Homo sapiens: one gene and its partners. The protein of the gene in region 1 purifies or fractionates together with the protein of each later gene. This does not show direct contact. Each region holds a gene or a part of one and is shown in the gene's direction. Other genes may lie near its edges. The genes, in order: EMC8, NCAPD3 and PRRC2C.

Evidence for each region.
Region 2: the proteins of EMC8 (region 1) and NCAPD3 purify together in Homo sapiens (co-immunoprecipitation; one large-scale study listed by IntAct). This does not show direct contact.
Region 3: the proteins of EMC8 (region 1) and PRRC2C purify together in Homo sapiens (affinity purification with mass spectrometry; one large-scale study listed by BioGRID and IntAct). This does not show direct contact.

Annotation. Positions count from the first base shown.
Region 1 is NC_000016.10:85,789,545-85,793,044, reverse strand, and holds part of EMC8 (ER membrane protein complex subunit 8), read left to right. Parts: intron 1-111; exon of another isoform or gene 112-748; coding exon of another isoform or gene 749-823; intron 824-3,500. UniProt on the Homo sapiens protein: Part of the endoplasmic reticulum membrane protein complex (EMC) that enables the energy-independent insertion into endoplasmic reticulum membranes of newly synthesized membrane proteins.
Region 2 is NC_000011.10:134,217,456-134,221,184, reverse strand, and holds part of NCAPD3 (condensin-2 complex subunit D3), read left to right. Parts: intron 1-458; coding exon 459-613; intron 614-693; exon of another isoform or gene 694-794; intron 795-3,729.
Region 3 is NC_000001.11:171,541,013-171,544,741, forward strand, and holds part of PRRC2C (protein PRRC2C), read left to right. Parts: coding exon 1-1,217; intron 1,218-3,729. UniProt on the Homo sapiens protein: Required for efficient formation of stress granules.

The DNA of each region.
Region 1 (3,500 bases):
GTGAAAATGTCCTTTCTCTCTAAAAAGTAAATGAAATTGCATGAGTAAGTGCAGAATGCGGAAGGTGTCTATATCAGAGTCAGTTTGACTACATTGACAACAGTCTCCACAGAGTTTTCTCCTGACCTTTTATTTTCATCTTGATTTTTCACAAGATGCACATCAGGGTGTGGGGTGTCGTACAGCGAAGCAGGGACATGGAAATGGATTCATTGGGAACAGAGGTTGAGTGGCTTCTCGGCTGTGCCTTGTCTTGCCTCGCTTCGGAGGAAGCTAGTTGCCTTGACTCCTAGCTGCCACTTAGATCCACCGCAGCTTTTCATGCAGGAGCCATTTGGGCTGAGGGCAGGATCCTGCAGCCACTGGAGACCTGGCTGCCACACCCACACCTACACCACCAGCAAGCCCCATCCTCTTCCCCCAGCCCACTCCACTCCAGGGCACTCTCACCTGATGCCTAGTTCCAGATTCCGGACTGTCACAGGAAACTACCCTTATTAGAACTCATCCACCCTGCCGCTGTGAGTGCTGAGGCTTGGCCGAGTCTCCGTTCCTCCCTTCGAGTTCTCCATTCCTCAGTTGGTGAACGGGCTGTGTGCACCCCTCATAGCCATCCATACAGCTAACTTGGTTATTCTCATGTGTGTCATTCAAAAGTTCTAAATTCTAAAGCCAGGCCAGAGCTTTTGTGACCTGGTTCGCTTTAAGGGCAACCTCTTCAAAGAGGTTCTACTTAAAGTTCCAGGTCATGACATTTTTCTGCTGGAATTTGGTTGGGCCCTTGGAGTTTTCTTACAGGAATTTGTCCCTCAGCAGGCAAAATGTAAGTTGAGATATACATGTGTTTGTCATAGGAATCATCTTTTGTACCAGGTGGTTTCTGTGCTCTGAGAGTGGGTACAAGGTGATACCATATGTGTTTACTGGGCTATGAGTCCTAACCAGGTGGCTTCAGCCCAGGAAAGAGATGGAGTAGCCAACTGAGACTGCTGCTGGGGGTCTTCAGGAAGTTGCCTGTAGCTAAGTAAAAAATATGTCCTATGGTTTTTCCTAGAAAATGTTGTATGGTATGGTCAGCTGAGTAATAACCCCCCAAATATGTCCACATCCTAATCCCCAGGCCTTATGTAGCAAAAGGGATTTGTAGATGTGATTAAGTTAAGGGCTTGAGGGTGGAGAGAATATCCTGGATTACCTGGGTGTGCCTCATGTAATCACAAAGACCTTTGTAAAGGGGAGGCAGGAAGGTCAGAGTGAGAGGAAGAGATGGATGATGGAAGCAGAGGTCAGAGTGATGTGGCCATGAGCCAAGGAATGCGGGCAGCCTCTAGGTGCTGGAAAAGGCAAGGAAAAGGATTCTCCTCTAGAGCATCCTGAAGAAGCACAGCTCTGCTGACCCATTATAGACTTCTGACCAGTAAGATAAAAAATTTTGGCTGGCATCATCCTCAGCAAACTAACACAGCAACAGAAAACCAAACACCGCATGTTGTCATAAGTGGGAGTTGAATAGTGAGAACACATGGACACAGGGAGGGGAACATCACACACCAGCGCCTGTCAGAGCCGGGGAGCGAGGGGAGGGAGAGCATCAGGACAAATAGCTAATGCATGCGGGGCTTAAAACCTAGGTGACGGGTTGGTAGGTGCAGCAAACCAGCATGACACATGGATACCTATGTAACAAACCTGCATATTCTGCACATGTATCCCAGAACTTAAATAAAAATTAAAAAATAAAACATGCACTTTAATCAAGTACGGTTTATTTCAGAAATGGAAGAAATTAGGGAATTTGAAGTTAGAAAATCCAAAAAATGTATGCATTAAAAATTCTAAGAAAAACAATCATATGATAATCTCTATGGATGGTGAAAAATCCTTCAATAAAATTTATTTCTTGCCTTAAAAAAAAAAAATTGGGCATGGTGGCTTGTGCCTGTAATCTCAGCACTTTGGGAGGCCAAGGCAGGAGGATTGCTTGAACCCAGGAGTCCAAGATCAGCCTGGGCAACATGATGAAACCTTTGTCTCTACAAAAAATTTAAAAATTAGCCAGACAGGATGGCGCACACCTGTAGTCCCAGCTACTCAGGAGGCTGAGGTGGGAGGATCACTTGAGCCCAGGAGTTCAAGGCTGCAGTGAACTGTGATCTCACCACTGCTCTCCAGCCCGGACAACGGAGCGAGACTCTCAAAAAAAAAAAGTGTTGTTTTAAGCCACTAAGTATGTGTAACTTGTCACAAGGGCAATAGGAAACTAAGACAGTGGCCAATCTGACTGTGAAAATAAGGGCAGGCTACACTGGAGAGCAGGGATAGGGACACCCGGGGGGCAGAGATGTGGGTCACCTTAGGGGAGGACACACTCAGGAGGCCGGCCCATGATGGCACATGAAGGCTGGGAGCACGGTGCTCAAGGATCAGCTCATCAGGGAACTTGACCAAATTTAGAGCAAGCCCCTTTGATAGTGTATAGAGATGTTTGTTCTAAGCAGCAATAGAAAGCTTCTGGAATCTGTTCCATTAAGAGGTGATAGAAACAAAATATGAGTCGTTTTGGAGTTGTTTTCAGCAAAGTCACAATGATAGCACCATTATAGATATTTTACAGACATAATCCTGATCTTTTGGGTGGATGACCAGAATGTCTAGTTGGTTCACTGAGCCCTGGTTTTGACCCAATATGGTAATTCGTGAACTCTTAGGAGGCCAGAAATATCCTAATCCTGTGCAAGGCAGGGACCCTTGGACTGTAACTGTCTTGTCTGCTTTTGGTCGTGAAGGAGACTCAGAGGCCCAAACAAGAATTTAGGAAAAAGAGCAATAGGATTGTGTTTAAAAAACACACACATCCATTTTTAACCAGTTTATTCCCTACAAAAAAAAAAAAATCAAGGTACCAATTTTGTTTCCTCTTGTGCAGACTGAGAATAGACTTTATTACAGTGTATTCAAATTCCATTATGCCAAAACAGGATGAGCTTTTGTTGTTTTGAATAATGGCCTTAGACCTGCAGGAAGCTGCATCTGGTGAGAAACATGGTACCATAAAAGAAACCCAAAAACTTCAAAGGTCTGCCACCTTGCTTCCATTTCAAAGCACGCCGGAGAGAACTAAGGACATGTGCACGTGCCCCTTCCTAACTTGGGACCTCTTTACCCTACACCCCAACTGAGGGGTATTTCATGATGCGGTGCTTAGAATGCTGAGATGGAGTATAAAAGACTTTTTTTTTTTTTTTTGAGACGGAGACGGAGTTTCACTCTTGTCACCCAGGCTGGAGTGCAGTGGCATGATCTTGGCTCACTGCAACCTCCCCCTCTGGGGTTCAAGTGATTCTCCTGCCTCAGCCTCCCGAGTAGCTGGGATGACAAGCGCCCACCACCACGCCCAGCTAATTTTTGTATTTTTAGTAGAGATGGGGTTTCTCCACATTGGCCAGGCTTGTCTCGAACTCTTGACCTCAGGTGATCCGCCCACCTCAGCCTCCCAAAGT
Region 2 (3,729 bases), on another chromosome or scaffold:
ATTATATATGTTTTTTAAATGCTACATGATTGTCCAAGGGCCCAATAAAGTGCTCTATATTTTATTTCCACTTATTAACTTGGTTATGATATTTTCACAAAGGAACCTCGTGGGCAATCTGATTAACCTCTGTTTCTTCTCTAGATTGAACATGTGGGAAAGCCTGATCACTGAATGTTTTGAAGTGTCCTTTCCCAAAACTCTTGTATCTGAAAAGTATTTCCTCCTTTATATTTTTAGAAGATGATTAGCTTAATAGTCAGTGTCAGTTGTGATTTAAGATTCTCTTAACCTTTTCTGGTTTTCTTTTATTATGCTACACCTATGTTATTAAAACAAGTTAAATGTGAATCGTGACTAGTAAACTTTTCTCCTCTTGAACACACCTGGAATCTAAAGGTGACTAGTTTTTTTACTTGTTACAGAGTACTTACACATTTCATTGCATTTTCCCCTAGAATGGGTTGACACAGTGTGGGAACTGGATTTCACAGAGACTGAGCCTTTGGATCCCAGCATAGAAGCAGAGATCATAGAGACTGGATTGGCTGCATTCACAAAACTCTATGAAAGCCTTTTACCCTTTGCTACTGGAGAACATGGATCTATGGAGGTAAAAATATAAAAACAAACTAGCCAAAGTTTGGTGTTAGAAGTAGAAGATGAAAGTCATTATTATAATCTGAAGCTTAGCTTTCTTGGTGTACAGTTCACAGGGAGTACAATATGAGTAACATAAAGAATGTGGTTAATTTATTGGAATATCCTAAGAGCTTTCCTCCAAAAGCTTCAAGGTACTTGTCTGATTTTTTTTTTTTAAGACACGACTGTTTTTTACAATAGCAAATTAAAGGAAAAGTATAAGGCCGGGTGTGGTGTCTTACGTCTGTAATCCCAGCACTTTGAGAGGCTGAGGCTGGCCAGTTGCTTGAGCTCAGGAGTTTGAGACTAGCCTGGGCAACATGGCAAAACCCCATCTCAGAAGGAAAAAAAAAAAGGAAAAATATAAAGGCAAAAACAAGAAAACTAGACCAAGGAAAATGCAAATAACAATTCAGACATGCCTTAACCTTAACTTTAAGAAAATCTGCGACCAGGCATGGTGGCTCATGCCTGTAATCCCAGTACTTTGGGAGGCCGAGGTGGGTGGATCACGAAGTCAGGAGTTCAAGACCAGCCTGACCAAGATGGTGAAACCCCATCTCTACTAAAAATACAAAAATTAGCCGGTTGTGGTGGCGGGCTTCTGTAATCCCAGCTACTCGAGAGGCTGGGGCAGATAATTGCTTGAACCCAGGAGGCGGAGGTTACAGTGAGCCGAGATCACGCCACTGCACTCCAGCCTGGGCGACAGAGCAAGACTCTGTCTCACAAAAAAAGAAAATCTGATATTATTAAACTGAGGAATGACTAGTTGAATTAACAGGTTTGTCCAAACAGTTCCTGTAAATATTGAGTTCTATCCAATGCATAGAAATATAAATTATTATTAATATTTAGGTTGTTAGTTTTCAAAAAAAACCAAAGGGTTGGGAAACAGAACAAAAGCTAATTGGATATTAACATCTCTGAAACATTTAAATGAACAAAAAAAAATTCACTTCCAAGTTTCACATCACAAAATTAAATCATCTAATTAAACATTCCTTCAGCATAACACTAAGCACTGCCTTAAGTACCTGAGTTGACAGAGTGGGGATTACGATACAATCTCCCTAGGTTGAGGTCCTCCCCAGGGACCTCAGGGAGGAAGAGTGGACATTTGAACACTAGCCAAAGTAGGTCTAGCAGCCACATGCAGTTGCAGGGGGTGGAGAGTTCAGTGCCACTGTGCATTTGGGCGCCTGGAAATATTCTACGAACCACACTGTGAAAAATGCTCCAAGAGAGGTGCGGATTTGTTGCATAGGGTGTGAAAAAGGGAGCATGGTAGGGTTGGGAAAGTTCCAGAAAGAAAGTGGCCAGCAGCGAATCTTCACAGATGACTAGCAGAAGCTTGGGTTGTAAGGCAGTCCTAGTGAAGGAGCCACCCAATGGGAACACGCAGGAAGTGTCAAGAGGCATACAGAAAAAGTGTGGTGGAACGGGATGGTAAGGTAGAGTAAGGGTAGGTCACGGGTAGCTTTACGTGAGGTTCAGCAGTGGAGTTTGAACATGTTTGGTAGAGTGTGTATGAGGTTTTGTTCTAAGCGTCCTGCATGTATTAACTCATTTAATCCTCAAGCAGCCTGTGTGAAAGAGGTTACAGTGGGCAATAGATAGGTAACATGAATAGATCTGTTTTAAGCAGACGTTCTTGACAGTAGGTGGACTGAAGTGGGAAAAATTGTGTGCAGGGAGAGCCCTTGGGAGACTGTATTGGTGATCCAGGTGTTATGAGTAATAATGGCATGATCCGGAGTTACAATTTTGGGAACTGGAAAGGAAGACTAAAAACTAGGGACATTTTTGGAATTAGAATTAATAGGGCCTTGTGAACTAGGAAGCCCTTTTGAGATATCTTAAAAACATGGTGTGAAGTGCTAAACTGACTGGGCATAGGGAATTAGAAAAAGAAAGAAGTCAGTGATCCCCAGGGTTTCAAAACTAGGAAGATGATGATATTGTTAACCAAGGTGGGGAATAAGGGAAAAAGAGCAAGGTCAAATGGAGAAACAGTTCTGTTTAGACTTCTGAACTTGAGATTCTGTCAGGAGATCCTTGGGAAGTTTAACAGGTAGTAGAAATGTGAGACCAGGAGAGAGAAGAGAGTTCTTTAAATTGAGGTATGGGTTGAAGCACAGTGATGCATGAGATCACCGAGGGTGAGAAGCAGCCAGGACAGAAATGGAGAGCTGATTGGACGGGGTCTGCAGAGGAGCAGTCACATGTAGGGAGTGCAGGGTCACTGACGCCCAGACTAGACAGCAGCCATGGGATCACATGGGGCCAAGGTGACCCCATATGCAGAGCCCTGGTGAGCAGATGGTTTAGGGTGATCGATCACCCTCGTGTGTGAAGTGGAGGTGCAGGTGGCATTAGGAATGAGGATGTGACACTGTAAAGTTAGGAGATGATTTCTTCCCCCCCCCCCCTTTTTTTTTTTTGAGACCAGGGTCTTGCTCTGTCACCCAGGCTGGAATGCAGTGGCACAGTCAAAGCTTACTGCAGCCTCAACTTATTGGGCTCACATGAGCCTCCCACCTCACCCTCCTGAGTAGCTGGGACTACAGGTGTGTGCCACCACGCCCAGCTAATTTTTTATTTTTTGTGGAGACAAGGTCTTGCTTTGTTGCCCTGGCTGTTCTCAAACTCCTGGGCTCAAGCAGTCCTCCTGCCCTGGCCTCTCAAAGTGCTGGGATTACAGGCATGAGCCATTGTGCCCAGTGGAGATGATTTCTCCCGTAAGTTTTTTAGTTAAGGAAAGGAGAGTGCTCTGCTCACTTGAATTTTGTGGGCCTTTTTTTGTTACGATACTCAAGGATAAACCATATTTAGTTCCTGCTATGTTTAGGTTATTAAAATAACCCATTTCTTCTTCATGTGTTTAGTAGGAGAAGACATGGAATGAAGATAGAATTAATACAATTGTGGTTTCTTTTCTAGGGTTTATCTCCTTTACCTGGGCCATTTCCGAGATCTCTTTCATTTCCTGCTCCCATTGCCTGCAATCTGCAGAACATTTAAATAAAGGGCTCTGATTTCCTCAGTTAGTAATTATTGGTAAAGGAATTTGAGTTCCTTTTAATA
Region 3 (3,729 bases), on another chromosome or scaffold:
CCAGATCAAGGATACAGAGGTCGAGGCCGAGGTGAATATTACTCCAGAGGTCGAAGCTATAGAGGTTCTTATGGAGGGCGTGGCAGGGGTGGTAGGGGACACACTCGAGATTATCCTCAGTATAGAGACAATAAGCCAAGAGCAGAGCATATACCCTCAGGGCCTCTCAGACAGCGAGAAGAAAGTGAAACACGGAGTGAGAGCTCTGATTTTGAAGTTGTCCCCAAAAGAAGACGACAGCGGGGTTCAGAGACTGACACAGACAGTGAAATTCATGAAAGTGCAAGTGACAAGGACAGTTTAAGTAAAGGCAAACTTCCCAAAAGAGAGGAACGGCCTGAAAACAAAAAACCTGTAAAGCCTCATTCTTCTTTCAAGCCTGATAATCATGTTCGAATAGATAATAGACTGCTAGAAAAGCCTTATGTAAGGGATGACGATAAAGCTAAACCAGGCTTTCTTCCTAAAGGAGAGCCTACAAGGAGAGGCAGAGGGGGAACATTCAGGCGTGGTGGAAGGGATCCTGGAGGCCGTCCATCACGCCCTTCCACTTTACGAAGACCAGCTTATCGGGACAATCAGTGGAACCCAAGGCAGTCAGAAGTTCCTAAACCAGAAGATGGAGAGCCGCCAAGAAGACATGAGCAGTTTATTCCTATAGCAGCAGATAAACGACCTCCAAAATTTGAGCGAAAATTTGACCCAGCTAGAGAAAGGCCTCGAAGGCAGCGTCCTACTCGACCACCAAGGCAAGACAAGCCACCTCGATTTAGACGGCTAAGAGAGAGGGAGGCTGCTTCAAAATCAAATGAGGTGGTAGCAGTGCCCACAAATGGCACAGTTAATAATGTGGCTCAAGAACCAGTTAATACTCTTGGGGATATTTCCGGGAATAAGACACCAGATTTATCTAATCAGAACTCTTCAGATCAGGCAAATGAAGAATGGGAAACAGCTTCTGAAAGCAGTGATTTCAATGAGAGGCGAGAGAGGGATGAAAAAAAAAATGCTGACTTGAATGCACAAACAGTTGTAAAGGTTGGAGAGAATGTTCTACCTCCAAAGAGGGAAATTGCAAAGAGAAGTTTTTCTAGTCAGAGACCAGTAGATCGTCAGAATCGACGTGGCAACAATGGTCCACCCAAATCAGGAAGGAATTTCTCAGGTCCTAGAAATGAAAGGAGAAGTGGCCCACCATCAAAAAGTGGGAAGAGAGGGTGAGTACTTTGTTTTAAATATAGTTGCTTTTGCACCTTTAAAGAAGCTAAAAGTAGAGTTCTTGGTTGAATTATGCAAAGAGCCAGTCTAGATAAAGGACCAAAAAACATTGTTCTTCCCAAATGCTTTATTCTCTGTTCTCAAAGTGTAAGGGTGCTTAAGGAAGAGAGGTTAAGGTGTCTTAGGAGTCTTTGCCTGCTACGTTACATTTTCCAGAAGAGTTCTCTTGGAAACTTGTAGCTTTGGGAAAATGTTCACATCTAAGGAGGGACATGTACTGTGTCCTTATTTGGTAAGTTATCTGATGAGTAGCCCTCCCTTCTTTCTCAGTTTCTCCTAATAAACCTCTAATGCTACACAGGTGTCCTCTGAGATTTAAATTAATGTTATAACCATATACTTTGTCACTCTAGAGAGAGGCCCAGAAAACAAATCCCTGTTCTACTACCAAGGACACCAATAACATAATTGCCATGGCAATGGATTTTTTTAAAAAAATATTTTTTCTCAAGTAAGCTAAACTTGGCCTGTTTTTTGTTGTTGTTGTTGAGATGGAGTCTCGCCTTGTCACCCAGGCTGGAGTGCAGTGGCGTGATCTCGGCTCACTGCAAGCTCCACCTCCAGGGTTCATGCCATTCTCCTGCCTCAGCCTCCCAAGTAGCTGGGACTACAGGTGCCCACCACCATGCCTGGTTAATTTTTTGTATTTTTAGTAGAGACGGGGTTTCACTGTGTTAGCCAGGATGGTCTCGATATCCTGACCTCGTGATCCACCCGCCTCGGCCTCCCAAAGTGCTGAGATTACAGGTGTGAGCCACTGCACCTGTTGCTTGGCCTGTTTTTTTAACTATTCAGATGTTGGGCCTGGTGCGGTGGCTCCTGTAATCCCAGCACTTTGGGAGGCCAAGTTGGGCGGGTCACAAGGTCAGGATATCGAGACCATCCTGGCTAACACAGTGAAACCCCGTCCTCTACTAAAAATACAAAAAATTAGCCAGGTGTGGTGGCAGGCGCCACTGGGAGTGGAGCTTGCAATGAGCCGAGATTGTGCCACTGCATTCCAGCCTGGGCCACAGAGCGAGACTCCGTCTCAAAAAAAAAAAAAAAAAAGTTGGTTATAGTAAGCTAGTATTGATTTATTTATTTAGTGTTAGCATTATAACGTAGCAGTTAAGATTCAGAATGCCTAGGTTCAAATCTCGGCTCTAGTACTTTCTAGTTGCTTCCCCTTTGCTTCCTCACCGCTAAAATGGGGAGAAAATAATAGCACTTAATGTGTGAAGATACTAAGATGATACTTGTGATGCACTTAATACCTGGTATATAGTAAGTAATCATTATTATGTGTGCCCTGCTTTTAGAGCAATTGCCAGGTTTGCAGCCTGAGCTGATAAGAATTTAAGAATTTATTTGGACTGTATGGTATTAATCTGAGTTCCTTAGTTTTACATACTTAGCACTTCAGATTACTATACCCATAAGGTATATTTGTCTATTTTCTGTTGATATAACTAAATACCTGAGATCTGGTAATTTATAAAGAAAAGAAATGTATTTCTTGCAAATCTGTTGGCTGCAAAGTCGAAGGTTGAGGGGGCGACATCTCATGAGGGCCTTCTTGTTGGTAGAGACTCTGCAGAGTCCCAAGGCAGCATGCTTATCACATGGTGAGGGGGCTCACAAGAGATGGCACAACTGGCTTTTATAACAGACCCGTTCATGGTAACTAACCAACTCCCTTGATAACCCATTCATTAACCTGTTAAGGATCAATCAATCCATTCAGAAGGGCAGAGCCCTCATGACATAATCACCTTCCAAAGTTCTCACCTCTCACCACTGCTGCATTGCCATTAGGGACCAAGTTTCCAACACATGAACTTTTTTTTTTTTATTGAGGGCGTGGGTGAGGGACGGAGTCTCACTCTGTCACCCAGGCTGGAGTGCAGTGGCGCAATCTCTGCTCACTGCAACCTCCACCCCGCTGGGTTCAAGCATTTCTCCTGGCTCAGCCTCTCTAGTAGCTGGGATTACAGGCGTACACTACCATGCCCGGCTAATTTTTGTATTTTTAGAAGAGACAGGGATTCGCCATGTTTGCCAGGCTGGTCTCGAACTCCTGACCTCAGGTGATCTGCCCACCTCGGCCTCCCAAAGTGCTGGGATTACAGGTGTGAGCCACTGCACGTGGCCCAACACATGAACTTTTGAGGGATATGTTCAAATCACAGCATTAGTTTGCTGTTCCAGATAATTTAGAAAAAGGAAATTTTTACTTGGAATTTGAACATTCCCTTAAAATTCCAAGAGAATCAGGATAACCAAAATAAACAGAATAGTTTATTTCCCGTAACCAAACTATTAGAATTTTAAGTAACAATACTCAGGGAAAATTTTGATAAGATTTTTGTGCCATGTAAATCTCAACTATGTAGCAAGATTTTTGTGCCACATAGATAGATAACAACAACTTTGAACCTGTAGAAATGGCAGTGACGATTATAATTAAAT